6 separate regions of the Homo sapiens genome follow, and all the other regions are reported to be linked to region 3. Evidence: microRNA targets listed by miRTarBase, many of them from high-throughput screens and not tested one by one. Region 3 holds a microRNA gene; each other region holds the end of a gene's coding sequence.

Region 1 (5,114 bases), not on the chromosome of region 3:
AAAAGGAGCAAAGCCTAGGAAACAGGAGTATATATAGGGAAAAAAAACCTTCACTTGCTGTAGGGAGAACCCCCTGAAACTACTGCTACGGAATAAAAGATGAAATGCTCCTGATTATTGTAAATACAAAGTTGCATGCAGGATTGTGTAAAGACAATGCCAGGTTGGACTGCCAGTATGAGCCAACAGCATGTAATGTGCTTCCCCCTGCAGATAGCCTATGAATGGATCTGCAGTCAGGGAGGTTTCACATCATCACCAAGATTCCTATCCCAGAAAAGCAGATATTCATAGCTCTGGGAATGGAATGCGACCCTTGTGGAGAGCCTATAAATGGACGCATGGGGGGGCGCCTGTCCATATGGATAAGATAGGGCTATAAATGCCCTCATCTTGCCATGGCTCTTCTAGGCCTCTTTAGGGTTAAGGCATACTCCCTTCTGAGAATTTCTGGTCTAACCAGTTGTCTAGCTTCACGTCCTATTTCTATGGATTGTCTGTAACCAGCTTTTGCTGCAACTGTTACTGCTGATTAATATCTTGCTAATCATAGGTTATGGAAAGAATGTGTTTCTGTTTTAAGGCTCTGTTAGAAATTACTGATGCACACACTATATTGTAAATTCTTATCCCTGTATACTGTACTTCTGCATACAAATGTTATGTTAAAGCATTACTTCATCCCCACGTGACCATCTCACCTCATAATCAAATGACCCTAAATTCCTCACTAACCTACCCCTGCCCTCACTAAACTTAATAATAAATGCTGGTATATCCAGCGCATTGTTGGCACCGCAGAACCAGAAGGCGGTGACCCCCCTGGACGCGGCTTTCACTATCTTGTGTGAGTCTATTATTTCTCAACCTACCAATCTGCCTGGGAACAAAGAGAGAGCCCCGTTGCATTGCGGGCTGCTGGCCAGATCCCGCAATAACTTGCCATTGAGGGAAAATATTTCTCAAGTTTAAACCAAAGCAAACAAAAAGCACATGATGATATATAGTCCTAATAAAATTTTATTGAGAACTAGTAAGTCAAATACTTTACAGAACATAGAAATACATATGATCCCAGCCTTTCCCATTAAATGACAACATAACATTGGGGTAGTTTCCCTGAATATCCCAAACAGTTTGCTTTATAATTAGAGAAACAGTTCGTCTACAGCTCAATAGTAGAGAAAACACAGGAATGAGGTGCTCTTACTTAGCGGAAGCAGAAATGAAATTGGAATTCAGTGTAAATAATAAAGGACTACAGATGAGTTCTAGCAGCCAAAGGAGTATACATGTAAATAGTCACTCTTCACATTTTCTATTTCTAAAGTAGCTAGTAAAAGGCAGGGCATCGTAAGATCAGACAAAAATTAACCTGAGGACATAGTAGCAGAGTATGTCTCTCAATTCAGTTATTTAGGAAATGTTAATAAAGAAAGTAACCCTAGATCCACTTTTACCTAAAACTCTACCTACCATGAAGGTTTTTGATGCCAAATAATTGGAACTGACATCAAAGATGAAAAGAGAGCCACATGACTCAGGATTAAAGACTGACAACTCAGGCCACACCGCCGTCCATGGTATCTATGGAAATAGGATAATGTTAACTTTTTACATGATGAAAAGTTAACTATTTGCAATTTCTAAATTACTATAGAAACAGAAACATGTGACAGGATAAATGAACACTGCTTGATGACCTTTGACAACCTTTGAAGGTTTTATTACCTAGTCCCTGTATAGAGATAAGAGATGATGGTATTGAGTTTTCTAGGAACCAACTTCTGGGAAAGATTTTTAAAGAAGAAAAATATCTGAGAGAAAAATACAAACTAGAACTGAAACAATGATGCCACTTCCTTTTAAAACTAAGAAGCCTAGTATAAAAGTTTCTTTAGTTACTACCATGTTGTTAGGGGATTGTCTCAGCGTTGTAGGCTTTGCCTGAATTTAAAATCCCATCAAAACTTTTTTGCTCTTAAGCATAAATACAACAAATAGCATACATATAAAATTGTGCCAGTTTAGTAAGTTTTGAAAAGCTTAAAAAAAAACCAAACTCTAATTGTGTTTGTGTGGATGAATTTGCTAACTGATGACAGTAGCTAACCCATTTATGCTGGGGGTTGCAATTTTTTGTGTGAAAAATCAGACCTTGGCAATGACTTTGAGCAGTAGGATGTAAATGACTCCCACAAGCTTAGCATTCCAATAATGGAACACTAGGCATAAATGGGTTAACAAGAATCTTATTTGAAATGTTCTTCTCCCTGCCTTGAAATCTTCCTGGGGTTAAGCATTGCTATCACGATGCTTGGAGAACTGTGATCAAGTCTTCTCTGGCTCAGAGAAACTGTTATTTTTCCCTTGCTTAGTAACGCAGCTAAAAGCATAGGCACAGTAGAGTAAGACATTTAACTAAACCAAATGAGCTTTATTCTTTCAAGCTGAACACCCCAGGCAAAGGCAAATTAGCTTTGCTGTGCACTACTTTTACTTCTTACTGTAAGTGCTGATATCGCTGATTGAAAACTTTCACAAGAAAGGCAGAGCATGCACATGCTTACCAGCAGCACTTCAGCAATCTGAGAGGCACAAGGTAGTGCCAACTTACACAAGTGACAGAAGGAGGAAGCTGATCCTGGAAACTGAGCAGTGGGCTGCTTTTTAAATCCTACTGCCAGTGGCCTTTAAAAGGTCAGTTTCCAATAATATTAGCTCTTTTGGTGCTAAACAGGAGATAATAGGAGACTGCTACCTGCAGGAACCAGTACACACTCAGTGGGGATTTGGTTTGAAGTTCCAATAAAAATAGCATGTTTTTGTGACCAAGAGAGCTGTGAAATAGGCACATTTAAAATACTTAGACCCTGTTATTTTAAAGCTACAATTTTTTTTTGCAAAATCAGTTGCAAAGAGACAAAACAAGCCAGGCAAAGGCAGTAATAGAAAGAGTAGAAGCTGATGAGTCAAAACACTTGAACAGAATTTGAAGCACCAGAGAGTCTTTATCTACTACGGAAAACCTGATTCTGTGGTCTCAGAAACTGATGAATTGTTAAGTCTAGGATACGCAAAGATGCATTTGTTCTAAGCATGAACTCTGGATAATACCTCCTCAATAAAAAGCATTTCTATTAAATGCTTAGTTTAGTGTTTTTGTTCAAGTTATTGGTTAGATAGTATTCCCTTTCTCATCTCCCCTTTTTAAACAGAAGTAGAATACTGTACAATTTAGTGAAAAGACCAAAGTTCAGATAAATTGATAGGAAGGAAAATATTTTATGGCTTATACCAAAGAGTCAGCACTAATGCATAGTCACTGTAAAAACCCAAGTTAAAGTTTAGAAAGTCAGTCAGAGTGGACTGAAATCCTAGGTTAAAGCATATTCATACATAGAAAATTGGCTTCCTGATCTTATTTGAATACTGAAAAACACACATATTTAAATAAAGAGTTCCAAAAAACTCAGATTATTTTAGAGAAAACACAGACTGTTATTGTTAGCTTATCTTAAACTAACCTTCAACTCAGAATTTTCACAATGATCATCATGTTTTATAAGTTTTTGATTAAAAATGTTGGCTTCTGAAGGCTGTATGCCTTACCGACAAAAACAGGCCAATCTGAAAGTATGTTTACCTCTAGTCCAAATAGGCATCAAGAATTTAAAAAATGATATTTAGGTACCAAGTCCAGATTGTAACTCTTGGAATTTTTCTCCTGGAAGCATTTAGTTATATTTCTGTCCCCTTTCAAAATGAACCACCTAGAGAAAAGCAAGTCAGAAAATTGTCTGCCCTCCAGTTGGAGGAAAAATATTAAAGAGAAGTGAAGTGTAATACCCAATAATAGTCACATATTTATCTTTATCTGTATTGAGTTTCTTTTAAACATTTTTAGAACAGTAACAGATGGTTATATTCATAAACTTAAATAAGATTTCCTCCAAGTTCTGGAATATATGTATACAATCTCAAAACACTGTACATATCACTCACTCTCCCTTTAGGAAGAAATGGAAATTAAAGTTAAAAGACTTCCTTGGATACTTCTAAGTAAAAGTAAATGATAATGGAAGGGAACTGAATGAAAGATAAATTCTGAAAAAAGCTAACAAAATCAAGTCCACAGTTTGACTCTTTGTTTCCTTGGAAAGCAACGGAAGCACTTAGCTTGGGTTTGAATATACAGAAAGGGTCATGCAGTGAGTTGCAGGTGGCATGCTATCCTTTCAGAGTTCAAATGCAGGGAACCTGGCTTTTGTGGGGACTAGCAGGTCAGCCAGGAAATATATTGTTCCAGCCATTCCTGAAGAAAGAGAAAGAGGCAAAAGTTATTATACCAAATGACTCCATTTCATAGGATGGTTCTTTTTCCCCCATATCTTTATTGACAAAAAAAGTCACAGCATTTCAGTCTATTCAAACACACAAACATCAACAAAGGGTGCCCACCAGTGATGGCCTCGTCCCTAAGGTCTGGATCAAGGCCGCACTGGAGGGTGGGGGTGTCCTCTTGGCCCTCCTCCTTCGGCATCCTATGGCTTTTTCCTCACCTCACTGACACCCCCCGAGAGCAGTTACAACTCTGCAAAAACGAAGGATGGCTCCATTTTTTAACATTAACAACATTACAATATTAACGGCAATGATTTAAATGAAGTGTGAATCTATCTACGTTTACATACACTGCAGTTCAACATTAGAAGAGATCACTAGTGAGGTGTTCAGCCTTATATCCCGGTGGAAGACTGGAGAAAGAATGGAGCCAGACAAGTTCAAGTCACAGCCCTGCCATTTACCAAACATAAGCTCCTGAGCCTCAGTCTCCTCGGCTATGACATGAAGGTAGTAGTGCCTGTATGTTTTTGCTGAATGATTTATGAGGGCGTCTGCAAAATGCCCAACATGTGCCTGGCTCCATAAAAGGGAGTCACCTGATGACTACCAGTATTGGGACTGTGGTATTACATGTGCTAATTGATTTTTAATATCGATTTAGCATATTAGGAAATAAAAAAGTAGTTTAAGAATAATTATAAAATTTTTTGCTAAAACTTAAATACATTAATTACCAAGCAGAGAAGTAGATGCTGATATTATAGGGC
Region 2 (5,114 bases), not on the chromosome of region 3:
GTGAGCTGAGATCACACCATTGCACTCCAGCCTGGGCAACAAGAATGAAACTCCGTCTCAAAAAAAAAAAAAAAAAAATTAGCCGGGCATGCTGGCATGCAGCTGTAGTCCTAGCTATTCGGGAGGCTGAGACAGGAGAATTGCTTGAACCCAGGAGGCAGAGGTTGCAGAGCCGAGATTGTGCCACTGCACTCCAGCCTGGGCAACAGAGCGAGACCCCATCTCAAACAAAACAAAACCCAGAAAATAACAAGAGTTCACAAATATGTAGAGGAAGGGGGACCACCTGTGCACTGTTGGTGGGAATGTAAAATGGTACAGCTGCTGTGGAAAACTGTTCCTCAAAATATTAAAAGTAGGCTGAGCGCAGTGGTTCACACCTGTAATCCCAGCACTTCGGGAGGCCGAGGTGGGCAGATCACTTGAGGTCAGGAATTCAAGACCAGCCTGGCCAACATGGTGAAACCCCATCTCTACTAAATACAAAAATTAGCCAGGCATGGTGGTGGGTGCCTATACTCCCAGCTTCTTGGGAGACTGAGGCAGGAGAATCACTTGAACCCGGGAGGCAGAGATTGCAGTGAGCTGAGATCGTGCCACTGCACTCCAGCCTGGGCGACCGAGTGAGACTTCATTTCAAAAAAAGGGGTCAGGTGCAGTGGCTCACGCCTGTAATCCCAGCACTTTGGGAGACCAAGGCAGGCGGATCACCTGAGGTTGGGAGTTCGAGACCAGCCTGACCAACATGGTGAAACCCCATCTCTACTAAAAATACAAAATTAGCCAGGTGTGGTGGCACATGCCTGTAATCCTAGCTGCTTGGGAGGCTGAGGCAGAATCACTTGAACATGGAAGGAGGAGGTTGCAGTGAGCCGAGATCATGCCATTGCCACTCCAGCCTGGGCAACAAGAGCAAAACTTCGTCTCAAAATAAATAAATAAATAAATAAATAAAATAAAAATAGATTCACCATATGAGGCCGGTTGCAGTGGCTCACGCCTGTAATCCCAGCACTCTGGGAGGCCGAGGTGGGCAGATCACCTGAGATCAAGAGATAGATCGAGACCATCCTGGACAACATGGTGAAACCCCGTCTCTACTAAAAACACAAAAATTAGTTGGGCATGGTGGCGTGTGCCTGTAGTCCCAGCTACTCAGGAGACTGAGGCAGGATAATTGCTTGAACCTGGGAGGCGGAGGTTGCAGGGAGCCGAAATTGTGCCGCTGCACTCCAGGCTGGCGACAGAGAGAGACTCTGTCTCAAAAAAAAAAAAAAAAAAAAAAGATTCACCATATGATTTGCCAGTTCCATTTCTGGGTATACACCCAAAATAATAAAAAACAGAGGCTGGGAGAGAGATTTGTACACCCATGTTCATAGCAGCATTATTCACAATAGCCAAAAGGCAGATGTAACCATTCATCAATAGATGAATAAATAAACAAAGTGTGGAATATATACAATGGAATATTATTCAACCTTAAAAAGGAAGGAGATTCTGCCATATGCTACACATGAATAAACCTTGAAGACATGATGCTAAGTGAAATAAGCCAGTTGCAAAAAGACAAAGACTTCATGGACCCACACATCTGAGGCACTTAGAGCAGTCACATTCATAGAGATGGAAAGTAGAATGGTGGATGCCAGGAGCCGGGGGAAGGCAGGAATGGGGGGTTATTTTTTCATGGGTACAGAGTTACAGTTTTACAAGAGGAAAGGAGTTCTGGAGATGAACAGTTGCGGTGGTTGTACAACATTATGAATGTACTTAACACCACCAAACTATACACCGGCAAGTGGCTGAGATAGTAAACTTTATGATACATGTATTTTTAAAACTGGCAAAAAATCCCTACAAACATATAGCAACAAATAGTTTTCCCTTTGCTTCAAGCCCCAATATATCTTAGCATGCCTCTGTTTGATCCTCTGTTGGATTTTGATATTTCATTCATTGTGGGGTTTTGCATTCATTTGATTTTTAAAAATATTATCCTAATATTATTTACCTTGGTTACTAAATTTTTTGGCATCGCCTTAAATGTTGCACCCAAGGTGAGTGTGCCTCACTTCCCTCACCCTAATCCCAGCCCTGCAATTATGTTCCTGCCTCGAGGGCTTCCAAGACTCTCCATCACCTTCTGAGAAAGCCCAGGCCCTCCGACTGGCTTTGGGCACCTGTCCACGTCTCTCCTCCCCTGCTCTTGCTCCACTGAACTCCTGTGGCCATAAGCCCATGTTTCTGGGGCTGGTAGACACTACGGTCCCTGCCAGAATGAGCCTCCACCTCAAAACTCCCTCTTGATCCAAGACTGTCCCAGTGAATATTTTCCACAGCTCCTCTCTCCTCAACTCCCGTGAAAAGCCATGAGTTGGTCCCATACCCCCAAGAGTGCCCCACCTTGTCAGGCCAGGTACTTCTTCCTGGGAGGGGCCATCTTCCCACTTCATGCCCAACCCAGCACTGGGCACTTAATAAATGCCCATGACTTGTGATAATTAAGTCCTCCACCAAGAAAGGACAGCTGGAGCCTGATGCAAAGGTTTATTGCTGAGTCTGTGCGTCTAGCTGAGGGGAGTGCAAATTGTGCCCCGGCCTTGCCAGACGGAAGCTCCTTGTCCCCGACTGCAGCACAGGCCCTGGCCTGTGGACATAAGCAAAGATTTGGTGCTGGATGAGGAAGGAGGGAGCAGGGATGTGGGGACATGGGCCTTTGTCCCTGATAGTTCAGCCATGGCTCTCAGCTTCCCCTGCCAGGGAACCCTGAATGGAAGGGGCAAGAGAAGCTGCTGGTAGGGACAAGAGGGTCACCCAGGTTTGCTTGTAACCCCACCTGAGGTAGACCCTTTTGGGCACAGCCAGGGCCTTTGTCCTATCCTGAATCCTCTGGGCTGATCCAAGGGAGCTGGACTCTGTCCCCAGCCACCCCTCAGGACAGCCCAGCTATTGGCCATAGCTGGTGTCAACAGTACCCTCCCTTAACCCCTTAACACACCATCCTGTTGTCCAACCAGCCCAGGGTACTGTGTGTGGGTGGGGAAGTGGTGTGTGGATCTGCTGTCCAAGGACACAGGGAGCAGATCCTGCTGGAGAAGGCTGGAGGTTGCTCTGAGCCTAGTATTTGGGGAAGGGTCCTGCTGTGTCTCACTCTGGCACCCAAGGGCCCCCAGGTCTGCCCCCTCCCCACTAATTTATTTATGTGGGGGCCACACAGGCCAGAGCTAGCTTGGACTTTGGACCCTTTGGAGGCTGCTGGGAGGGACAGTCACTGGCTCTGGGTAGACAGGTGTCAAACTTGTCACATGGAGGTGGCAGGGTGAGCAGCTGGCCTGTGTGTGGGAGGGATATTCCCTGTCCTTGATGAAATACTGGGAGGGAGGGCTGTTTGCTGAGCCCAGGCCCACCAGGTGAGTCGTGGGCCCCCAGGGGCAGGAGAGCTGCGGGAGATTGGTCAGTTGGGCACTGCTGAGTCACCGTGAGCTTCAGCTGCCCCAAGTCCTGCCCGTTCCTAGCTGGGGCTGGCTGCTGTGAGTCCTAGAGGCCAGTGCAGCCGGGCGGTGAAGGGCAGGGCTTGGGGTTGGGGGCATGAGGCGCTGGGATACTGTGGGAGGTATGGGGGAGGGTCCGCGCCTCAAGGCTAGCAGGGCTCAGAGCTTTGGTGAGGTGGCAGGTTGGGGCCAGGGAGTCCCAGGGGGCTGATAGGGTCCTGGGGTTTGGGGCTGCAAGGCAGCTAGGGCTACCAGGTCTCAGGGTGACTGACACGCATGAATTCAGGCACCTGTGAAAAGGAAACCCAGTCAGCATCCCTGAGACCCAAAATAAATGGGTTTAGGCATTGTGTGTGGTGGGGCGGCCCTGGAAGCTGTGACACCTGAGGTCTTGGGGCGGGGCCAAAAGAAATTCAATGGGTGGGACTTGTGGGGTGGGGCGGGGCCTCTGTCGGTGGGGTGGAGCCTGAGGAGCTGGGGTGGGGCCTGGAGGCAGTAGGCTCCAGGATTTGGGGGTGAGGCTCCAGGGCCGTGGTGTGGGGTGGGGAGCTGGACGGGGCTGGGGTATTGAGGCAAGAGCCTGGAGAGGGCAGCGACCTACCTCAGAAGAGGCCACAGTCTTTGAGGTTCTCCTTGATGATGATGTCGGTGACAGCGTCGAAGACAAATTTGACGTTCTGCGTGTCGGTGGCGCACGTCATGTGGGAATAGATCTCCTTCACGTCGCGCCGCATGTTGAGCTCGAGGAACTGCACCTTGATGTAGTTGCCGGCGTCCTCGTAGGTGTTGGGTCCTGCGGGGGCGGGAGCTCTCACTCTGCTCAGCCCTTCCTTCCCCGTGCGGGGGGTGCGCGCCGCGATCGTGGGGCGGGGGCGCCGCCTGGCGGCCTTGCGGACTTCTCACCATCGTAGTCCGGGAAACAGATGCTGAGGTGCGCCTTCTTGATCTTCTCGAAGAAGACGTCCTTCTTGTTAAGGAAGAGCACGATGGACGTCGTGGCGAAGTAGCGGTGGTTGCAGATGCTGTTGAACAGGTGCAGGCTCTCGTGCATGCGGTTCTGAGGAGGGCAGCAGCTGTTGGGCACCCGGGGTAGCGTCCGACCCGCAGCACCTGCTCTCTGGGCTCCCGGGCACGCGGGGCTTCCCGCTCAGCTGGCTCTCAGAGGGCTCCCCGCACTGCCCCAGATGGGCCTGCTGAACGCCTCCGGGCCTCCTCAGGCCGCCCGGGACAGGCATCCCCTCCCGTGCCCTCCCCCAGCCCAGCGCGCGGTCTCCGCCTCCAGGGACCAGCAGCTCCTCCTCGCCCCCCTGGAACACAGGCCCTGCCTGGCACGCACCACTTCGTCGTCCTCCACTAGCACCATGTCGTAGGCGCTCAGCGCCGCGATGAAGATGATGCAGGTCACGCCCTCGAAGCAGTGGATCCACTTCTTGCGCTCCGAGCGCTGCCCGCCCACATCGAACATCCTGCGGGGCCGCGGGGGCCTGAACCTGCGCCCCGGGCCCCACAGGCAACATCCCTTCGCCCTGTGCTGGTCGGGGAGCTCTCGGCCGGGACTACCACCCTTTCTGCTGGCGGGGTATCAGGGAAGGGGCAGGGTCTATCGCAGGGATGGGGTCC
Region 3 (5,114 bases):
TTTTATAAAATCACTGAAGCATCAAAATATACTTTTGGAAGTAGATGACTTTGAAAACAGAAATGGTACTGATGGCCTCTCATACAATGGAGCTATCATAGTTTCTGGTAAACAAAAGGTATGTTTGCCTTTTTGCTTTTATGAAAAAAACAAAAAGTACTACATTTTAGCTGTTTTAAAACTGCAGAAATTAAAGCTAGTATACAGAAACTTGACTCAGAAAAACATTCTGGGTTGTTATTTAATAAACTGTGAAGTTTACCTAAGTTTTTGTAAAACATTTTCTATCTTAGTTTTGTTTTGAATTAGATAACTTTTACATTTGAAAGGATCTAAATTTAATTGTACTGTTTAAACTCAATAAAAATATTATAGCTTATAATTATCAACCAATATAATTATGGATTTAAGGAATTTTATTCAGTAGCTAACTACCTGAATAAAGTTTGTTTTTATATATTGAGAAAATACATTAAATACTATAATATCTACACGAAATAACTGAGAAAAAAGTATTCTCAGTCTGCTACCTTAGCATATGTCGATTTGGGTAAAAGAGTCAAGCCATAGAGATTCATTAGAGAACAAGACTATTGAAAATACTTTTTTTGAGGCAGAGTCTTGCTGTGTTACCCAGGCTGGAGCTCAGTGGCAGTATCTTGGTTCACTACACCTCTGCCTCCCATGTTCCAGTGACTCCTGCCTCAGCCTCCAGAGTAGCTGGAATTACAAGCAGGCACCACCATGCCCAGCTAATTTTTGAATATTTGGTAGAGAGTGGGTTTCATCATGTTGGCCAGGCTGGTCTGGAACTCCTGACCTTGGGTGATCCTCCCGCCTTGGCCTCCCAAAATGCTGGGATTACAGGCATAAGCTACCGTGCTCGGTTTAAAAATACATCTTAATGTTAAGAACTCTTCAGTCTTATTTGCATTCTAATAAAAGCAAGGGGCCTAATTAAGTGAAGCTCCCTCTTTATTTCATGCTACAAAGTAAATTTTTAAAAAAGAAAAGCCTTTGAAGTTGTATTACTGAATTCCGTTCTACATAAACTAAATATGCTATAAAAAATGTAATCGCTTTGTGCCAGTTTTGGGAAATTACTTTGTCAGCTACTACGTTACATACCTCACATATTTACTACATGAACTAGTGGTAAGATTTAAACAATAAACCTTCTAATAGATTAATGAACATTTTCCTAAACATGAAGTACATAAATATAAAGATTGCTTTAGGAAGTGGGGAAATGCTTCTTTGGCAGGGTAAGGATGAATATTTAATGAACTCCATGCTTATCTCCTATCCAGAAGGCCAGCATTCCTTTGCTGCTGCTGCTGCTTTTTTTTTTTTTTTTGAGACAGAGTCTCGCTCTGTCACCCAGGCTGGAGTGCAGTGGTGTGATCGCAGCTCACTACAACCTCTGCCTTCTGAGTTTAAGTGATTCTTCTGCCTCAGCCTTCCAAGTAGCTGGGATTACAGATGTGTGCCACCACACCTGGCTAATTTTTGTATTTTTTAGTAAACATAGGGTTTTGCTATGTTGGCCAGGCTAGTCTCAAACTCCTAACCTCAAGTGATCTGCCCGCCTTGGCCTCCCAAAGTGCTAGAATTACAGGTGTGAGCCACCATGCCCAATCTTCCTTTGCTTCTTCATCATAAACTGACAGCATCTCCTTGTCAGGGAGACTTTTAAACTCTACTAAATGAAATTTCCCCATCAGCAAAATGGAGACAAAATTATCTAAAATTAGTAATACAAATAAAAATTCATATTGATTGTATGCTGACTCTGTGCTAGAGCTTAATGTACATGAATAGAGTGTCATTTAAGCCCTATAACAACCCATTTAGTATTTCCTTTTCATAGATGAGGAAGGTAAAGCTCAGAAAGTTTAGTTCACTTGAAGATGGACACACAACAAGCATGTGGCACTGTTAGGATCTTTTATACATAAACCTTGCCTTTGTTCTTTAAGAATTTAGCATTAACATTATTTATTTGTTTCTGTTTTAAGGATTATAGATTTTCAGTTGTGTGTAATACCAAGAGATTGCACTGTTTTCCAATTCTTATGAATATTATCAGCAATGGGCTACTTCAAATGTTTAATCACACACAACATATTCGAATTGAGTCAAGCCCATTTCCTCTTGTAAGTATTGGATTTACTGAGTCTAAACAATTAAGAATTGGACAAATAGCCTATGTTTTCTCTCTTTAGCTTTTAAATATCCATAAGTGATTGTTAAGCCTGAAAATTATTATTTTATCCTAATATTTTCAATGGGTTATAGCAAACAAAACAGGATTTTTTTTTCCTGCCAAGTTATCAGATAATTATCGTGAGGGAATACTTTTCAATATTTTGTCAGTCTTCTAGGCAATGTTTTGAAAAGTTGTACATACTTGATTGTGGAAGTGTATGAGAAAGAGAAACAGAAAAAAGAAAACACTGACTTGGAAATCAGGAGAACTTGTAACCCTGGTTACATATAAATCTATTATAATTAGTTAGTGGACCCTCCATTGACTAAATGTGTAGTAGACAGACTAATATGAAGGAGAATCTGCCAGTTCTGGGGCTATCTGTTGATTTATTTATTCACCTACTCATAGTTGCTCTATGTTGTGAGGGAGCCTAATACACACAGGCTGCATTGGATTCTGTGTCAGTTGGCTATAGTCTGGCTTCAGACAGTTTGGACACTAGAAAGCAGTGGTGGGAGACAGAAGAGCAGAGGACCCCCTACATTGGGCTCCAGTCACATCACCTCCTTCTGCTGTTCCTGAAGCCCAGAAGCAACAATAGCTTGCTTCTCACTTCACCATCTTTGTGGGATGCTCATCACCCACCTAACCATGTCATAAGGAATTGCACTCTAAGAACTTAACGTAGTCATGGTTTTCTGGTTAGACCCTGCCTGATACCAACAGGGGTGTCTCAAAGCTGACTCCAACTGTTTCACACCAGAAGTCTGAAACATCAAGAAGCAGGATTAGAAATGAAGCCATCCAAAGGGAAGTCCATTTTGTGACAAAAGTGTGAAGCTCAGTTTTGGCTTCACTGAATCAGTGGTGCTGGGAGTATATGCAAGCACAGGTTTTCTGTAAGCCATGGGAACAATGGGGATGAAATATACAGTACTTGAGATGTTCGTGACAGACACATACCTCCGTGAGTTGAGTATGACCGACTGATCACGTAAACAGGTCTGCTGCACAGGATGACTCGAGGGAAGGGGTGTCTGAAGGGAATTCTCCAGAAAGTGGAACCAGAGGAGTAGCAGAAAGAGACAGTGATTACCCTTCCTCTTTGGAACGATAGCAGCATGAACCTGTCTCACTGCAGAATTATTTTGAGACAGGCTTATGCTGCTATCCTTCAAAAGAACACATCCACCCAGCTACTGAGGTTTCCATCTCTGGGTTTGCTCAGAAAGACATGCTGCTCAGGCCTGAATTATGTGTTCATCAAAGGTCCTAACTTCTGAATTATTAGCTTCCTAATGCCATTGTGTTTGCTCAGGATCAAAATGGACTGAAGCCCATAGCTACTCTATTAGAAACCTGTTCCCCACTCCCACTTCCCCATGGCACACACCTTTCCTCCCTCATTCCTATGATGAAAAACAGAATTTATAGACATAGCCCTCAAAGTCTTAAATAAAGTTAAATAATTGTGGAATTATTTTGAGACAGGCTCATGCTGTTATCCTGTAATTATATCCATGAGGTGGTCCTAGATGCTGCTAGAGTGTCCACTTGGCCTAGCCTCAAGTGGATGCTGATTTGGGGGTAGTGATTTAAAGTTCCTTTCCCTGAAGTTAAGACAAGCAGCAACAAGTTTTCTTCTTGGTTCTGTGCTTCAGAACACATCCACCCAGCTACTGAGGTTTCCATCTCTGGGTTTGCTCAGAAAGACGTGCTACTCAGGCCTGAATTATATGTTCATCAGAGGTCCTAACTTCTGAATTATTGTTTTTTTGTTGTGGTAATAATACATGATATAAAATTGACCATTTTAGCTGTTTGCAAGTGTACAGTTGAGTAGTATTAAGTATATTCACATTGTTGTGAAATGCATCTCCAGAACTTTGCCGTCTTGCGGAATTGAAACTCGATGCCAATTAGCTTTCCCCCTCCCCCATCCCCTGGAAATAACCATCCTATTATGTTTCTATGAATATTACTAGTTTAGAAACCTTATATAAGTGGAATATTTGTCTTTTTGTAACTGGTTTATTTCACTTAGCATATTTTCCAGGTTCGTCTATGTTGTAGCATGTGACAGGATTTCCTTCTTTTTTTTTTTTTTTTTTTTTTGAGACCGAGTTTTGTTCTTGTTGCTCAGGCTGCAGTGCAATGGGGCGATCTCTGCTCACTGCAACCTCTGCCTCCCAGATTCAAGCGATTCTCCTGCCTCAGCCTCCCAAGTTGCTGGGATTACAGACATTTACCACCACACCTGGCTGATTTTGTATTTTTAGTAGAGATGGGGTTTCACCATGTTGGTCAGGCTGGTTCAGACTCCTGACCTCAAGTGATCCTTTTTAAGGTTGAATAGTATCCATTGTTTGTATATACATACACATTTTGTTAATCCATTAATTTGGACTTTTGGGTTGCTTCCACTTGTGAGTATTGTTGGTATGAATATGAATGTGAGGGTATCTCTTCGAGAGCTTGCTTTCAATTCTTTTGGAAATATCCCCAGAAGTAGGTCCTAAATGACTTTTGACTTCTCTTTGTTCTTTGAGTTGAAGATCAGAGTCACTTTCCCTCCCACCTTCGTGCCTAGATGGTAATGAGCTACACCTTTACTTTGATTTTTCAACATTTCAAAAAGTGCATTTTTGTGGCTATAATTATTTGTTTCATTTAACAAATATTCACTAGTTTAAGCTACCCTTTATATTTTCAGAGCCACATAGGACTCTGGACTGGGTTGCCGGATGGTTCCTTTTTCTTATTTTTGGTTCTATGTAGCATTTCTCCTTATATCACCATGGGCAGCATCAGTGATTACAAGGTAAGAAAAAGCAGGGAAAAGAAGAAATTTCAGGAATTTCAATATCTGTATTTTGAATGCTATGTGTTCAAAATGTTTTCT
Region 4 (5,114 bases), not on the chromosome of region 3:
AAATGCACATGAATTGCCACGGTATTGTCACTTATGTTTGTAACTATGCACTTTTGTTTTGCCATTTAGCAATCATTGCATACCTTTCAAAATCAACATCCGGAGGATTATCTTTGAATATATGAATTTCCTGTGATTAAATATGTACGTCAGAGGCCACAATTTCTTTGTTATATCCATCTAAAATGGGTGCCTCGTCAGCATCACCATGTTGTACTCATTGTATGACATTCAGAGATTTCAAAGTGATTTAAAACAGTTAAATATACAATCAAACTTTGGTGCTCTGAAAAAAAATATTTCCTCTTTTTAGTATCTAACTACATGTCATCTGCTTTTTTATTCAGGCAACTCCGGAGGTGCCCTGGAAGTCATTGCCTGACAATAACTGATGTTCCCGTCACTGTTTATGCAACAACGAGAAAGCCACCTGCACAAAGCAGCAAGGAAATGCATCCTAAATAGCACCATTAAGTCTTTTGTCAAGGTCTGACTAGGTCAAGGGTAATGGACCAGTATCATCTGGTGATCTGGTAAACAAATAAAAGTGGTGGCACCTTTAGATGATGACAACAGTTGAGCTCTTTACTTTTAGTAAGACCGACAGAAATGTAGTCAGTAAAGCACATGTAGTGATAGGCTATCAGTTATGTCTGATACATAAGACAGAATAATATTTCACAATTAGAAAGTACCTTAGAGATCATCTTGCTCACAGTAGATCATTAATATCAATAATTAAAGATGAAGCTTAATCCACCATGGTCATCAGTCAGGTGGGGCTTATTCTAAATGCTTAATGTGTCTTAAGCTCATTTCCTTGTTCATATTTGGGTTGCTACTTGGCTAAATCCTTTCACCTTAGTACCCTAAGCCAGTTTCCTGGCTTGATACTATTTGATAATGCTCTGCTCAGGAATGATTATATTGGGTGAGAAATGGAGCCCTGGGGTTGTGTGTTTTGGAACAGTATTCAAGATCAAAGAAAGTTCTTAGTCCATGGTTAATCTGCAAGGCATTTAAGCCACTTCCATAGAGGAGCCCAGATTGTTGGTTAAATATATTGATAATGAAGTCAAAGCTGTGGTTCCAACCCCGATTTTTCCAAGAAAAATGACGTCTGGTTATCACTTTGTACACGAAGTGCTAACCAGGTATCTTGATAAATTGTTTACAGTAGGTATTGAGAAACCTCATGTGGATTTTTTAATTTGGTTAGATGTGGGATCACTTTTGAGGATGAGGCCAGCTCTCTATGTTCTCTTTTTCTTCTTGCAGTAGTCCCCAGAAACTCAGTCTGCTTTCCTTTTCTCTCGATGGCTGTCAGCACCCATCTAATGAAATTGTCTTCTCCAAAAGACTGACTTTAGGATCAGATACAATTTTCACCAGTGTTTTTTGTCTACCTTGCTGCTTCTGAAAATATACATATAAGCCTTTTAAAATGAAAAGTTTATTAACTTATAATTAAATAGACGTAGATGCATATGTGTTGCATTAGGTGAAAAGAAAAACTGCCAGGGAGTTATAAGAGGAAAAACTCTCAGAGCTCACACTGAGCTGGGAGAAGTTTGAATGCCAACCAGTTAAAGTGGAAAGATCTTGAACATGTGGGGCATTGAGTAGAGACTCAGAAAGGTTGTACTTTCATAAGAGATCCAAACTGGAGCTAGACTAAAGGCTAATGTATACCAATTTTAAGAAAGCTTAAAAATAAGCCTTGAGAGACTCAAGATGATCTCTAAGTAACCTCATTTTATCTGCCAAATAAAAATAGAACATTCCTTAAAGGAAGAAAACAAAATCGAGGCAGGAAATTGCCTGAGGCTGGAGAAAAAATGACAGGAAGGAGAAAGGAGTGATGAAAAATTCCTCAGAGGGCTGGGCTTGGTGGCTCATGCCTGTAATCCTGGCACTTTGGGAGGCCGAAGTGGATGGATTATCTGAGGTCAGGCATTCGAAGCCAGCCTGGCCAACATGGTGAAACCCCGACTCTACTAAAAATACAAAAATTAGTCGGGTATGATGGGCAGGTGCCTGTAATTCCAGCTACTTGGGAGGCTGAGGCAGGAAAATAGCTTGAACCCAGGAGGCAGAGGTTGCAGTGAGCTGAGATTGCATCACTGTGCTCCAGCCTAGGCAACAGAGTGAGACTTTGTCTCAAAAAAAAAGAAAAACAAAGAAAAATTCCTCAGAGCTCATACAAGGCTGGGTAGAATATGTGTTTCAACAATAGTGGATCTTTTAATATAGTACATGGATCATTGAGTAGAGTCTTCAGCAAAATATTGGCAAAGTAGGGTTAGGGTTAGGTTAGGGAGATGGGAATAGACTGAAGACTACTCTGGACTTGCCCTAACAGAGTTTAAGAGCAACATTTGAAAGGATCAAACTGATTTCAAGTAACTTGAGTGCATCCAAGGGGAGAAAACCCATCAAAATAAAAATAAAAACTACAATAAAATCCAGCACCAAAAGTGTAACATTCACAATGATTAGCATCTAATAAAAAGTTACCAGGCATGAAAAAAAAAAGGAAAAGGCAATCCACAGTCAAGAGAATCTTTAGTCAATGGTAATAGACTGAGAATGACAGATGATGGCATTAGTAAATGATATGGTTTGGCTCTGCGTCCCAACGCAAATCTCATGTTGAATTGTAACCCCCAGTGTTGGGGGAGGGACCTGATAGGAGGTGACTGGATTATGGTGAACACCTATATGGATATGAATATGGAGTATTCTCCATGGATATGGAGAACACCCCTTGGTGTTCTCATAATAGTGAATGAGTTCTCATGAGATCTGGTTGTTTAAAAGCGTGTAGCACTTCCTTCTTTTCCCTCTGTGTCTCCTGCTCCACCATGGTAAGATGTGCTTGCTTCCCTTTGCCTTCTGCCATTGTAAGTTTCCTGAGGCCTCCTAGCCATGCTTCCTGTTAAGCCTGTGGAACTGCATCATTTAAACCTCCTTTCTTCCTAAATTACACAGTCTCAGGTAGTTCTTTATAGCAGTGTGAAAATGGACAAATACAGTAGATCAGCTACCATAAATATCGTTCAAGTAGTAGATAAAAACATAATGAAGAAATAAATGGAAGGTATAAAAATGACCCAAATAGAACTTTTAGAGATGAAAAATACAATATCTGAAGTAAGAATATACACTGAATAGGATTAAGAGATTAGATACTGGAGAAGAAAATATTAATGAACTTGAATATATAGCTATATAAATTATCCAACATTAAGTACAAAGAAAAAAGCGTATAAGTTTTGTGTTTCATTATCAAGCAGTCTAATATATATGTAAGTGGCTTCTCAGAAGAATGGAGGGGGATAGAAAAATATTTGAAGAAATAATGGTCAAATTTTCCCCCAATTTGATGAAAACTATAAACTCACAGATCCAAGTATCTTAACCAACCCTAAGGAGAAGCAACATGAAAACAAAACAATGACATGTCCTAATTAAATTGAAGAGAAAAATCTTAAAACTTGATAGTAAATGACACATGCATTCAGAGAAAGAAACATAAGAATGAGAGCACACTTTTCATCAGAAGATATGAAGGCAAAAAGGCAATGGAGCAGTATCTTTAAAGTATCTTTCAAAAATGAAGGTGAAGTAAAGACTTTTCAGCCAAACAAATGCTGAGAGAATTAATCACTAGCAGATCTACACTATAAAAAATGTTCAAGGAAGTTTTTCAGGCAGAAAGAAAATGGTACTAGATGGAAATTTGGATCTTTAGAAAGAAAGAACACAAGAAATGGAAAATATGTGGATAAATATATAGGCTTTAAAATTTTTTAAGCACTAATAGATAACCGTTTAAGGCAAACTATGGCAATGATATTTTATGTAAAAGTATAATGTATAATACTAGCAAAAAAACAAAGGAGGAGGAAAATAGAAGTTTACTTTTGTAATTCTTAGACTATTTGTGAAATGACATAATGGTATTTGACAATAGACTGATGAAGTAAAACTTGAGTTATCTCTAAAACCTAACAAACAGAGTTAGAGCTAATACAGTAGCTCTAATTATTGTATGGTGGAGAGTAAATGTAATAAATATTACTCATTTAATTCTAAAGAAGACAGGAAAAGAGGAAAGAAGGAACAAAGATAATACATTTAAACCATATGATATTGATATTTGCATTAATTACAGAAGGTCTAAATTTCAGTTAAAAGGCAGAGATTATCAGATTGGCTAGAAAAGAAGATGCAACTATGAGCTGTCTACATGAGCCCACCTTAAATACTAAGACTCAGATAAATTAAAAGTATAAAAGGATAGAAATAGATATGCCATGCAGACATTAATCTGAAGAAAGCTGGAGTAGCTATGTTAATAATAGACAAGAAGATTTCAGAGCAAAGAATTTACAGAGGTAAAGAGAGACAATTCATAATGATAAAGGGGTCAAGACATCAAGAATACCTAACAATCTTAAATGTTTATGCCAGAGCTTCAAAGTACATGAAGCAAAAACTGATGCAATTGAAAGAAGAACTAACTCCACATTTGTAGTTCAGGATTTCAGCTGGTAGAACAAGTAAACAGAATCAGTAGGGATATAGAGGACATGACAATTGATATAGAACACTTTACCTAGGAACAGCAGAATACTGTATATTCTTTTCAAGTGCACATGGAAAATTTACCAAGTAGAACATATTGTAGGCCACAAAACAAGTTTCAATAAATTGAAAAGTATTCAAAGTATGGAAGGGTAGGCAAAGTATGTCCTACAGTAGAATTAAATTATAAGTTAACAATAGAAAGATACCTAGAGAATCTCCAAATATTGGAATACTAAGTGATACACTTCTGAATAACCCATGAATAAAAGAAGAAATGACTGAATAAATTAGAAAGTGCTTTGAACTGGATGAAAACAAAAACACAGCATATCAAAATGCATGGGTAGCGCTTAGAGAGAATTAAGGCAATAAATTATTTCATTAGAAAAGAAGAAACATCTCAAGGCAATGATCTAAGCTTCTACCTTAAGAAAACAGAAAAAAATGAGCAAACTAAATCCAAAATAAGCAGAAAGAAAGAAGTAATAAAGAGCAGAAACAATGATATAAGAGCAGATAAA
Region 5 (5,000 bases), not on the chromosome of region 3:
TGGGAATATGAAGAAGTGTAAAGGTGACAATTTTCTTTACCCGCTTGTTAAAATATTTAAGTACCAGTTAACTAGCCAGCCAACATGGAACGGGTATAAAGACCCAGTCTCTGCCTTGAAGACCTACCATCTAGCAGATGGAGAGGGACATGCTAACAAATAGGGGCGCTAAGTTTTTAGACTGCTATGACAGAAGATTTAACAAAGGACAGTGGGAGAACAAAAAGAAGGGGTTAAATCTACCTGGTGGTGGAGTATGTCAGGAAAGACTTCTTCAGATTGGCAATTTGGCCTGAATCTAGGAAAAAAAATGAATGGGGACAGGTGGGAGTAAAAAAGGGAACCATAGACAGGAGGAGGTGTGTAAAGATGGACAGAAAGCATGGTATGATAGACACTACAAAAATGAGGAAGTGCCGAGACAGTGGACAAAAGTTTCAAATGACAAGATTAAATACGATAAAAGAGTTCCCTGGATTTGGGAAATGGGAGGTTATCCTTGAACTTTGCTAGAGCCATTTCAATGGAGCAGCAGGTCAGAAGTCTGGCTGCTATGAATTTAAAAGGATGAAAAGAATAAAGAAAAATATTTTAGAGTAAATGAAAGACAAAAAAAAGGTGACAACAAGTTTAGACTATTTCTTGGAGCCATTTGCCTTTTTACTTTCAAGCATACTAGTTCAGGTGTGACAAGGGTTACTTACATAGGATTTACATTTCTATGAGAAAACGACTCCCAACTGCCATCTTAAAAACTTAAAAACAAGTTTTTAAACACAATCCATTCTTAATTTAAAGGCTGCCTATATTATTTCAAACAATACAGGCAGCCTTTTAAATATATGTTTAACAATTATTAAACTTGTTAATTATTAAATATTAATTATTAAACATGTTAATATATGTTTAATATGTTTACATAATGTTATTTTAAATATAAAATCAACATTTCTACAGATTTACTCTGCCATCACTAACTTTTCTTTCATATCCTTCAAAATAAATAACACCTGTAATTGTTTATAGTAGAAAAGGTGCTTTATTTTACATATCATTGGTACACGATACATAAAACTGCCTAAAATCAGTCTTGAAAAACACAACAGTCAGTCAGTTACACCTTAAAGGGTCAAAGACCAAGTCTATTTTGCAAGCTACTTCATTTATGATCAAATGACTACAATAATTTTAAATACTAATAATGTCTTCATATCCAATGTTACAAATGATTTTTGTTACAAGGGCTGTAATTTTTTAAAATAAAAATATCTTTAGCTATAGACCTTATTTCTAATCAGAATGAATCTTTGCTAGTCTACAAGTCTTTGAAATAATAGATCAACAATTTCACCTTCCTATAGATAATTGTATTTATGTAATTGGGTAATGAGGCAGGAGTCCTTCATACATGCAATCAGATTATTTCAATTTTTTAAAAAATGCAGATAAAATTGAGTTTATATATACCCTATGTCTAATTAAGTTGCCAAAGAAGTTTATTAAACTAAAATGAAGCCAATATGATATTTTAGAAAACATAATTCTGAGAGCATGCAACATCAAAAATATTTTTACTACTTATGAGAGCCAGAGTTGCAGAACACAGAAGAGGACTGGCACAAAGTCTTGTTATATTTGAACTGCTTACCTGACTGGGAAGAGTAAAGAAAGTCATTTAACTCAGTGCAAATCCTATGAAAAATATCTGCATGATACAGCCTACTGCTACACAAAGGGATCTTCATTTAGAAAATGTGCAAATCATAAGAAGCTAAATGCACTTCTCTTGCTATTTGCTCCAATTCATTCTATTCATCAGCACACAGCTCTAAGATCTCTTATTAACTACTAATGTCAAAGCCACAGAGATTTCTTAATGGCATTTTTTAGTCAGCAATCCCTTATCACAGAGATAAATATGACTGGTGCTTAATGTACAAATGCCAAAAAAAAAAAAAAAATAGAATCTGGGCTAAGTCTCAGGGCAAAAACATTTATGATTTTAACAAATCCCTCAGTATAGAAAGACTTCTCTTCCCTCTAAACAGTTAAGTCATATGTTAGAACCACAGGTTCAGAATCACCTCCTGATCCAGAAGAGTGGAGGCTTAACTGAATCAAATACTAAACAGGTATAAATGTGCACACTCAAACAAATATTCTATCCTTTGCTTAAAATCAACTTATTCCTTGTTATCAGGAGAAGGGCTTCAAGATGCACGTTGTTAATTAATGCAGAGAAGAAAGGGTTAAAAGCCAAACTTTTTCTATTAAAGCAATAGATCTTTAAAATAACTGGGCTTGAAACATATACTTTTAGTATAACTTTCCATTCATATTCTTTTATAATTAAGTATACACATATACACAACAAACCCTAATATTTAATATGTGCAAAATTGCTTACCATGTATTTTAACTTTGGTTAAGTATTTGTTTAGCCTATATCAGATACATTACAGAAGCTAGACAAATGATTACAAACATAATAATGAGGTAAGTTAAAATTCTACTAGTGCAAAAAGCAAGCATATGCCAAAAGCAAAGCATATGAATTAAACAAATGCAGAATGAAGCTCTCACCAAGGGCATTGCTGGGATAACAAACCAGAGAAGCTCCTTGTAAACATTGTAAAGTACACATTTAAAGAGTAAAGATTCATACAGCCACAAAAAAGGTATTCTAACAACACCATAGTAGTGCATTTATTTTATCTTTAGAGTTTGGAAACCACTCATTATGTGTCTAACAATTTGCATATTTTCTTCAAGAGAAACTTAATTAGTGAGACACATTAATTACAAATACTGTAGTATAAAAATCCCAGTTCTTTACAAAAATTATATATTAAAATATTCTATACACTTTAAATTAGTAACTGGAACACACATATATATCAATTCTGCACAATTAAATCCATCTTTGCTGGGGGGTATCATACATGAAATTTGAGGACATAGCTACTCAGTCAACCTAAACTGGCATAAGGTTATGTGGTATAAAAAAAGATAGACCTGTGCCCCTGCAGTTATTGAAGCTCTTAGTTTGAAATATCTTTTCTGCAATTATTGCTCTGTATATTAATTCCAGATTTAAATAGGCAGTGGAACCATGAAATTCCTAAAAGGTTTAAAACAAGTTACCTGTAGCAGAGTGTTTATAATGCCTATCTGTATCTTTAAGGTTGTAATGGAACCTGAGTTAGCTGTCTAATGCTTATATTTTCATAGTAAAAAAGTTTATACAATTTCAAGGTAAAAACAATGCAAAAATAAAACATTTAGAGCATTTACAAAAATCTTACAAATGTTTAAAACACTATTTTAAAACTTGTGTCCTGTTAAGGTGCTTGTTTTTTTCTCCAATAGGAGGACATATACTTTAATTTTGAATTCAATTATGAAGATTTTAATTTTAGCAAAAGCAAAATTAGAGCCATTAAGACAGATGAAAATGTTCAGGGACATACTTCACTTCTACTAAAAACACAAAACCTTAGTGCTGAAAGGGACCTAAAAGATAAACTGCTTTAACTCCCTCATCTGTTATGAGGAAAATGAGGGCCAGATAAGTTAAGTGCTTTGGCCAAAAATATATTCAAATATATTGGCCTGGTAAGAATCAAGAAAACTCATTGTTCTTGTTGTATTTTACCATGATTCTTGGAAAATAATAAAAGTTCAAAAGCAGTTTCTAAACTTGCCTCTTTTTTAATTTCTTAAGCTCTGTGCTAACTGTAAACAAAGAAAGGAATCAAATAACTATTAGAATTATTATAGTATCACACATATTATCCAATAGAAGACAGTTGTTAGAGGAACACTGCTCATATAGAATAAAGATAGAAGGAGTACTCAAAGGTAGGACATTTACAATGTAGAGAACATTTACTATATAAGACAGCATAGTATACAACAGCCAGTTACCAGAATCATCTCAATAACTCTAGGATGACTGGGTTACACAGCCCTTATAAAAGATATTGGGGTAATAAAGCTTTCTAGCTTTTATCTTAATTTCACTGTTTTTCTTTATAAAAGAGCTATATCTGTAAGGAAGAACTCATATACTAATTTTCAGAGAGTCTTTGCTTCTTTTCTTTTATTTGGATCTATAATTCAGCAAATACATTTTAAGAACAATTTACAAACTCAAGTTCATAACTGCTGGAAATACAGCCAGAGAATACTCTTTTAAATGACAAATCTTCATAACCAGTTACTAATAAATAATCATCATCACAATAGCTTCAGTAAAAAAACCAATTCAATTTAAAGGTGCTTTCTTATTGTTACCTTGAAGCCACCGAACTTGTGTAGCTGGTCCATATCCCTTTTCATTCTTTGCTGATATCCTGAACACAATGGCAGGCCTGGATGTATAATCAATATGTGCATTTGCAAGTTGCCCAGCAGTTACTATACATGATGTCTTAAGACCACAATAAATCCTCATGAACACAAGTTGACTTGGATTATCTTGTATCTGTGCTGTGCGGATAGCCAAGTAGGCTGAATATTCCAAAATATTTCCAGAAGGTGAGGTTGGAGGTTCCCAGGAAAGGTGGATACCTTCAACATTCTTGAAGGGGGGGGGAAAAAACAGGTTAAAGGTTCTTAAGTTTCCTCTGTTATCACTTATTATGTTGAGTCTATCTTTAGAATACAAAATGTTCATTTTTACTAAAATAATTGCATTAGATGTTACATCTTTTATTGTTGATTTTTAAAACCTACCTCATTTGGATCTACAATGTTTAATTTCATGCTTGCTTTTCAAAAACACAACTAAGTTTAAATGTCTGCCTGTAATATCCCAAAACAGGGATTTTTATTTCCTAAACAATCTCTAGGGAGGGACAGGACATTAGGATAAAATATAATCCAGTTTCGAGTGCTCTATTAAAATTCTCCAGCCAAATGTTTTCGTTCCATAATAACAAGAACAAATTTAGAAGCATACCAGATTTCCCTGCCTTTCTGTGATTTGGATGCTGTAA
Region 6 (5,000 bases), not on the chromosome of region 3:
GAGACAGTGTCTCACCATGTTGCCCAGTCTGGTCTTGAACTCCTGGGCTTAAGCAATCCTCTTGCCTCCCAAAGTGCTAGGATTACAGGTGTGAGCCACTGCCCCCAACTTTAAGGAAAATTTCTTAACCTTGTTAAGCCTCAGTTTGTAAAATGGGGACAATATTACCTACTTAAGTGGGCTATTGTAAAGATTGAATTAATGCACAAAAAAATAACAAATGTGAACACTCCACTAACATTAGCTATTATTTGTGAAAAATTTCTTAACTTCTCATATTTTATATATGTCTAAATGTATAGGGAGTAGTTACCTCTGGAAGCTAACATTTATTTTCATTTATTATTTATTTATTTATTTATTTATTTATTTATTTATTTTTGTAGAGATGGGGTCTTACTAGTTTGCCGATGCTGGTCTTGGACTCCCGGCCTCAAGCGAACCTCTGGTTTCAGCCTCCGATTTAAATTGAAGTATAACACACAGTGACAAAAGCACAAAGCATAAACTTGATTATTTTTCATAAAGTAAACTTGTCTTCATTTAAAAGGACATTTTACAAAAAAAAAAAGCTATTAATAAAAACCATAACGGCAGCCACTTTCATCACTTCTAGCAGCAAGAGCTTGAACATTCATGCTCCCTATGGTATCGAGATGGAAGCTGACAGGTGTTCCATTGACTCAACTCAATACACCTCTAGTGCCAGTGGGTTCCCTTGAGCTCCAGGACAGTGAGCTCCAGCACAGTACAAGGGCAAACAGGAACCAAATCTGAATTATTACGATGCTGGATTCTACTCAATGCCCAGTTTTGGAAACTCTAGAGCTTGCTTTAAAAATAATCATTGTAAGAAACATTTACAATGTGTCTAAAATAAAAATTACTCTCCATAACAAAGTTCCATGTATAACAACACAGATTCTGTGAAGTAGCGAGTGAGAGATTTTTTTCCCTCTTCCTCTTAAGAGAAATTGAGGGTGAAGTCAGTGCCTCAAAAGCTGGCTGGAGCAGTGTTAGGTACAATGAACTATTTCAGTGTAGAATGAATTACAAAACAGTAATATGAAGGAAGGTTTGATTGTAAGCACAGCAGCAGCAAATCCTCCAACATTTACCCCATTATCATTTGGTGAGAGGGGAACCTTAACTCTAACCCTTTTACTGTTGTTGCTCTCTACCATTTTGCTTTTTCATAAAAGTTCTACATCAAAACTGTTACTCCCTCTTCCACAACAGCACTGAAAACTGTATTTCCTTAGAGCTATACTGTCCCCAAAATTGGAATACAGACTTCATGAGAGAATATTTTATCTCTGCCTACCACAGCATGTGAAAAAAAAGGAATTTTTTAAAATTTAAATGTTAAAAATTTTCCAATTCTACCAATACCTACCAACTTACAAAACTCTAGAGAACTCAGAAATACACAAACACACATTCCATTAACCACCAGAGTGATGATGCTGTCGCGTCATAGAGCCTCTGGAAAACCCCACTGTATAACTGGTGAGAGAAACAGAGGGAAAAAGGCAAACAACTTGAGAAGAATTACTTAACAAGACATAGGGAAGAGTAATCACTAAATCCTCAATAACACAATTTCCAATTCTATTTAGAATTTGGTATTTGGGCCCAGTGTGGTGGCTCACAGCAGTAATCCTAACACTTTGGGAGGCCAAGGCAGGAAGATGTCTTGAGCCCAGGAGTTCGAGATCGGCCTGGGCAACACAGTGAGACCCCATCTCTACAAAAAATTTTTTTATAAAAAGTAGCCAGGCATGGTGGTGCACGCCTGTAGTCCCAGCTGCTCGGTAGGCTGAGGTGGGAGGATAGCTTGAGCCCAAGAGGTCAAGGCTGCAGTGAGCCATGATTGCGCCACTGCACTCCAGACTGGGTGACAGAGTGAGACCCTGTCTCAAAAAAAAAAAAAAAAAAAAAAGAATTTGGTATTCAATATATAAAGCTAAATTTTCCAAAGACAAAAAACTTAGAAAAAAAAGTTTCCTACAAATGTTAAGTCATAAGTCTCAGAAACTCAAAAGAAGTGACATTTACTTCCTGGCTGAGGTTGCCCAATGGCTTGTCAGAAAGAAACCGAGAGAGAGGCACATCAAGATGAGATGGGGCATTAACTCCATAGTCAGCTTCAGAATTCAGCACTGTCCCTGGAGCACTCATTCCCAAGTGCCACCTAACAACAATCTGAGGTGAAGTAAAATCTCAATTTGTATAGAAAATGAATATCCGTAGAAAGAGGAGGCCTTCTGGGAAAAAAATCAACCTTGCGGCCAGGCACGGTGGCTCACGCCTGCAATCCCAGTACTTTGGGAGGCTGAGACGGGCAGATCACGAGGTCAGGAGATTGAGACCATCCTGACTAACAAGGTGAAGCCCCGTCTCTACTAAAAATACAAAAAAAAAAAAAATTAGCCGGGTGCAGTGGCGGGCGCCTGTAGTCCCAGCTACTCAGGAGGCTGAGGCAGGAGAATGGTGTGAACCCAGGAGGCGGAGCTTGCAGTGAGCCGAGATCGTGCCACCGTACTCCAGCCTGGGCGACAGAGCGAGACTCCGTCTCAAAAAAAAAAAAAAAAAAAAAATCAACCTTGCAGGTACTAATATGTAAGTCCTCCATGAATGATCCAGCTATGCTGGTAAATAAGTGAGGGCAACATTGTATCCCAACACAGGAAGGGGTCAAATTCAAACTATGTGAACTATGTGATCATACTAACAGAAACACCGTTAAACATTTTATTCACAAGTGATTTGTGCAGTCCCAATAATAAATCTCACTGTTAGACACAGTCCTCACAATGTAGCAACTTAACACAGAGTTCAGAAGTGCAGTTAAAGAATATAAAGAGAGAAAGAATCAAGGCAAGAATAAGGAAGGAGAAGAAGGAGAGGACATGGAGGGAGGAAGAATGTGAGGAGGCAGGGGTGGGAGGCTGGGGCTCCCCAGCATTCCCGCCTCCCTCTGCTGGTCCGTGGTGAGGGAGGAGTGAGGGCCTCCTGTGGCTGACATTCTTCCAGGGAACTCTGCACAGTCCTGCTGATATCATCAGTTTCTTTTGCTGCTGCCTTGAAAAGTAAACAAAAAAGGGCTGCAACACTGCAACTCCATCAGGGGCATGGGAAGATGAGGGTGGGGATGGGGTGAAGGAACAGGAATCCAACAAATATTAAGAGGACAAACTTTGGTAGGAAAATGATAGACCAAGCAAAGTAAAAGGCAAACAACTTTAATGGTTATTTTGCTAAAGATAAAACTCTGGGTGGTAAAGGAATTAAAGGCAGAGTCTCAAAGAGATATTTGCACCCCCGTGTCTGTATTAGCACTACTCCCAATAGTCAAGAGGAAGCAAGCCAAGTGTTCACTGATGGAGGAACAGAGTGTGGTACGCACATGTAACGGAACATTCCATTATATGTATAATACAGGAAGGAAATCCTGTCACCTGACACAACATGGATGAACCTTGAGGACATTATGCTAAGTGAAATAAGCCAGTCACAAAAAGACAAGTCACTGTATGATTCCACTTATATGAGATACTGAGAATAGTCAAAACCAGAGAGACAGAAAGCAGAATGGTGGCTGCGGGGGCTGGGAGGAGTGGGAATTACTGTTTAATGGGTACAGTTTCCATTTTACAAGCTGAGAAGCCTATGGAGATGGACGGCGGTGACGGCCACACAGCATTATGAATGTATTAACAGTTAACGTTACTGAACTGTGCACTTAAAAATGGTGAAGACAGTATGTTTTATGAGTATTTTACGACAATTTAAAAATTAAAAGAAAAAAAACCAGAACACACTAAGGGTTATAGGCACAAATTCTCCTTATGCCCACCACCATCTCAGCTGGTAGTATGACGGGTGTAGACACCATTAGAGGCAATGGTGAATCTATGGGGAACCACCCAGGAAAGTCACCATCCAAATGTCCACATCCCTGCTTGGCAATTAAAACGAAGACACTTTTCTTCAGCACCTGGTGAAGATGTTTAGTTTCTAGTGCTTTCCAAGATCCACCTCAGGAGAAGTCAATTTGTCCACAGGAAGCGTAGTTTCCAAAGCTGTCTACGGTGAACCTCTGAGAGATGTGAATTGAATTCAGCTTTAGGGAGCCAAAGTAGAAGTTCTCAAACAACTGAAAAGGAAGAATAAAAACCCAGAATGAATATTTAAAGTATAGATGAAAATATTAAACATCAGATTATCTTGTAAAAACACCAAACCACAACAATCCCAACAAATCTCTCATGCTTTTTCTTTTCAGTGTTTACTCTGAATAATGATCCAGGAGAGGAGGGATGGGGGTGGGAGTGAGAAAAGAACAGCCAGCTCTTCTCTCTGATTAATTCTAAAGTCTCCCCTGACAAATGCACCAGAGAAAGAGGTTCTGAAAAGTCAAATCCGAAATTCATCTACTGACCAGATATGACCAAGAACTTATAGCAAACGCCCCATGGCCACACCCTGACTCACAGAGTCTGACCAGGCTGCTTCTGACTTCCAGTGACTGACCATGCAGGGATCTCGGCTTTGTTGCACCAGGGTTAAATTTGACGTAACATATATCTAATCAACGCCATTTGTTAGGAGCGCTGACTAAAATAAATAGAAGATAAGGCTCCTGACTCACAAGTGATTCAGACAAACCACTGAGGGACACAGAGCATGCACACACACACAGAACAACCCAAGGGACACTTCTACTGCCAACAGAACAAGTACAAGTGATTACTTATCAAATACCTTTATTAGACTTGGATTCAAGCCAGCGACCTAAAATAAATACTTTTTGCTATGATCCTGTACTTTACAAAAGCTTTCAAAAGTGTGTCAGAGTGAGGGATGAACCATACATACTCCAAGAGGGACTGGACTTTGTGATTACCACATTTATAAGGCAGGACCCAAAATGACATCAGAATTCATCCCAGGAAAATGCAGCCATAGTGCCTGAATAAGGAGCGTCAAAGAGTAAA

Evidence for each region. Region 3 holds the annotated microRNA hsa-miR-4524b-5p (AUAGCAGCAUAAGCCUGUCUC, at 3,363-3,383, opposite strand). A microRNA usually pairs through its seed, bases 2 to 8, with sites in the 3' UTR of a target mRNA and lowers its output. Matches are read on the target gene's strand: a 7mer-m8 pairs with bases 2 to 8, a 7mer-A1 pairs with bases 2 to 7 and ends in A, and an 8mer does both.
Region 1: the mRNA of LANCL1 is a reported target of hsa-miR-4524b-5p. Seed matches in the 3' UTR shown: 7mer-m8 at 1,273-1,279.
Region 2: miRTarBase lists GNAT1 as a target of hsa-miR-4524b-5p. Seed matches in the 3' UTR shown: 7mer-m8 at 1,380-1,386.
Region 4: miRTarBase lists FAM229B as a target of hsa-miR-4524b-5p. The part of its 3' UTR that is shown has no 7-base or 8-base seed match.
Region 5: miRTarBase lists HCFC2 as a target of hsa-miR-4524b-5p. The part of its 3' UTR that is shown has no 7-base or 8-base seed match.
Region 6: the mRNA of ASCC1 is a reported target of hsa-miR-4524b-5p. The part of its 3' UTR that is shown has no 7-base or 8-base seed match.

Annotation. Positions count from the first base shown.
Region 1 is chr2:210,430,249-210,435,362 of GRCh38, forward strand. LANCL1 (LanC like glutathione S-transferase 1) reads right to left here. Exons shown (of 10, transcript NM_006055.3): 10 at 1,003-4,315. The coding sequence ends at 4,239. All of the region lies in intron 2 of LANCL1-AS1 (LANCL1 antisense RNA 1), which reads left to right. Among named protein-coding and RNA genes, the nearest start is that of LANCL1, 44 kb to the right of the region's middle. RefSeq lists an enhancer at 1-273.
Region 2 is chr3:50,193,938-50,199,051 of GRCh38, reverse strand. GNAT1 (G protein subunit alpha transducin 1) reads right to left here. Exons shown (of 9, transcript NM_144499.3): 6 at 4,831-4,960; 7 at 4,398-4,551; 8 at 4,096-4,287; 9 at 1,356-3,784. The coding sequence ends at 4,097. Among named protein-coding and RNA genes, the nearest start is that of GNAT1, 4.9 kb to the right of the region's middle. RefSeq lists enhancers at 3,553-4,084, 4,137-4,652, 4,641-4,700, 4,653-5,114 and a silencer at 4,271-4,330.
Region 3 is chr17:69,097,839-69,102,952 of GRCh38, reverse strand. It overlaps MIR4524B (microRNA 4524b), which reads right to left and starts at 3,411; the gene lies at 3,297-3,411. It overlaps ABCA6 (ATP binding cassette subfamily A member 6), which reads left to right. Exons shown (of 39, transcript NM_080284.3): 21 at 1-118; 22 at 2,019-2,156; 23 at 4,926-5,033. It overlaps MIR4524A (microRNA 4524a), which reads left to right and starts at 3,321; the gene lies at 3,321-3,389.
Region 4 is chr6:112,100,323-112,105,436 of GRCh38, forward strand. FAM229B (family with sequence similarity 229 member B) reads left to right here. Exons shown (of 4, transcript NM_001033564.3): 4 at 348-2,468. The coding sequence ends at 465. Among named protein-coding and RNA genes, the nearest start is that of FAM229B, 15 kb to the left of the region's middle. RefSeq lists an enhancer at 1-710.
Region 5 is chr12:104,102,541-104,107,540 of GRCh38, reverse strand. HCFC2 (host cell factor C2) reads right to left here. Exons shown (of 15, transcript NM_013320.3): 15 at 1,017-4,582. The coding sequence ends at 4,268. Among named protein-coding and RNA genes, the nearest start is that of NFYB, 33 kb to the left of the region's middle.
Region 6 is chr10:72,093,292-72,098,291 of GRCh38, forward strand. It overlaps ASCC1 (activating signal cointegrator 1 complex subunit 1), which reads right to left. Exons shown (of 10, transcript NM_001198800.3): 10 at 2,741-4,159. The coding sequence ends at 4,043. Among named protein-coding and RNA genes, the nearest start is that of SPOCK2, 7.2 kb to the left of the region's middle.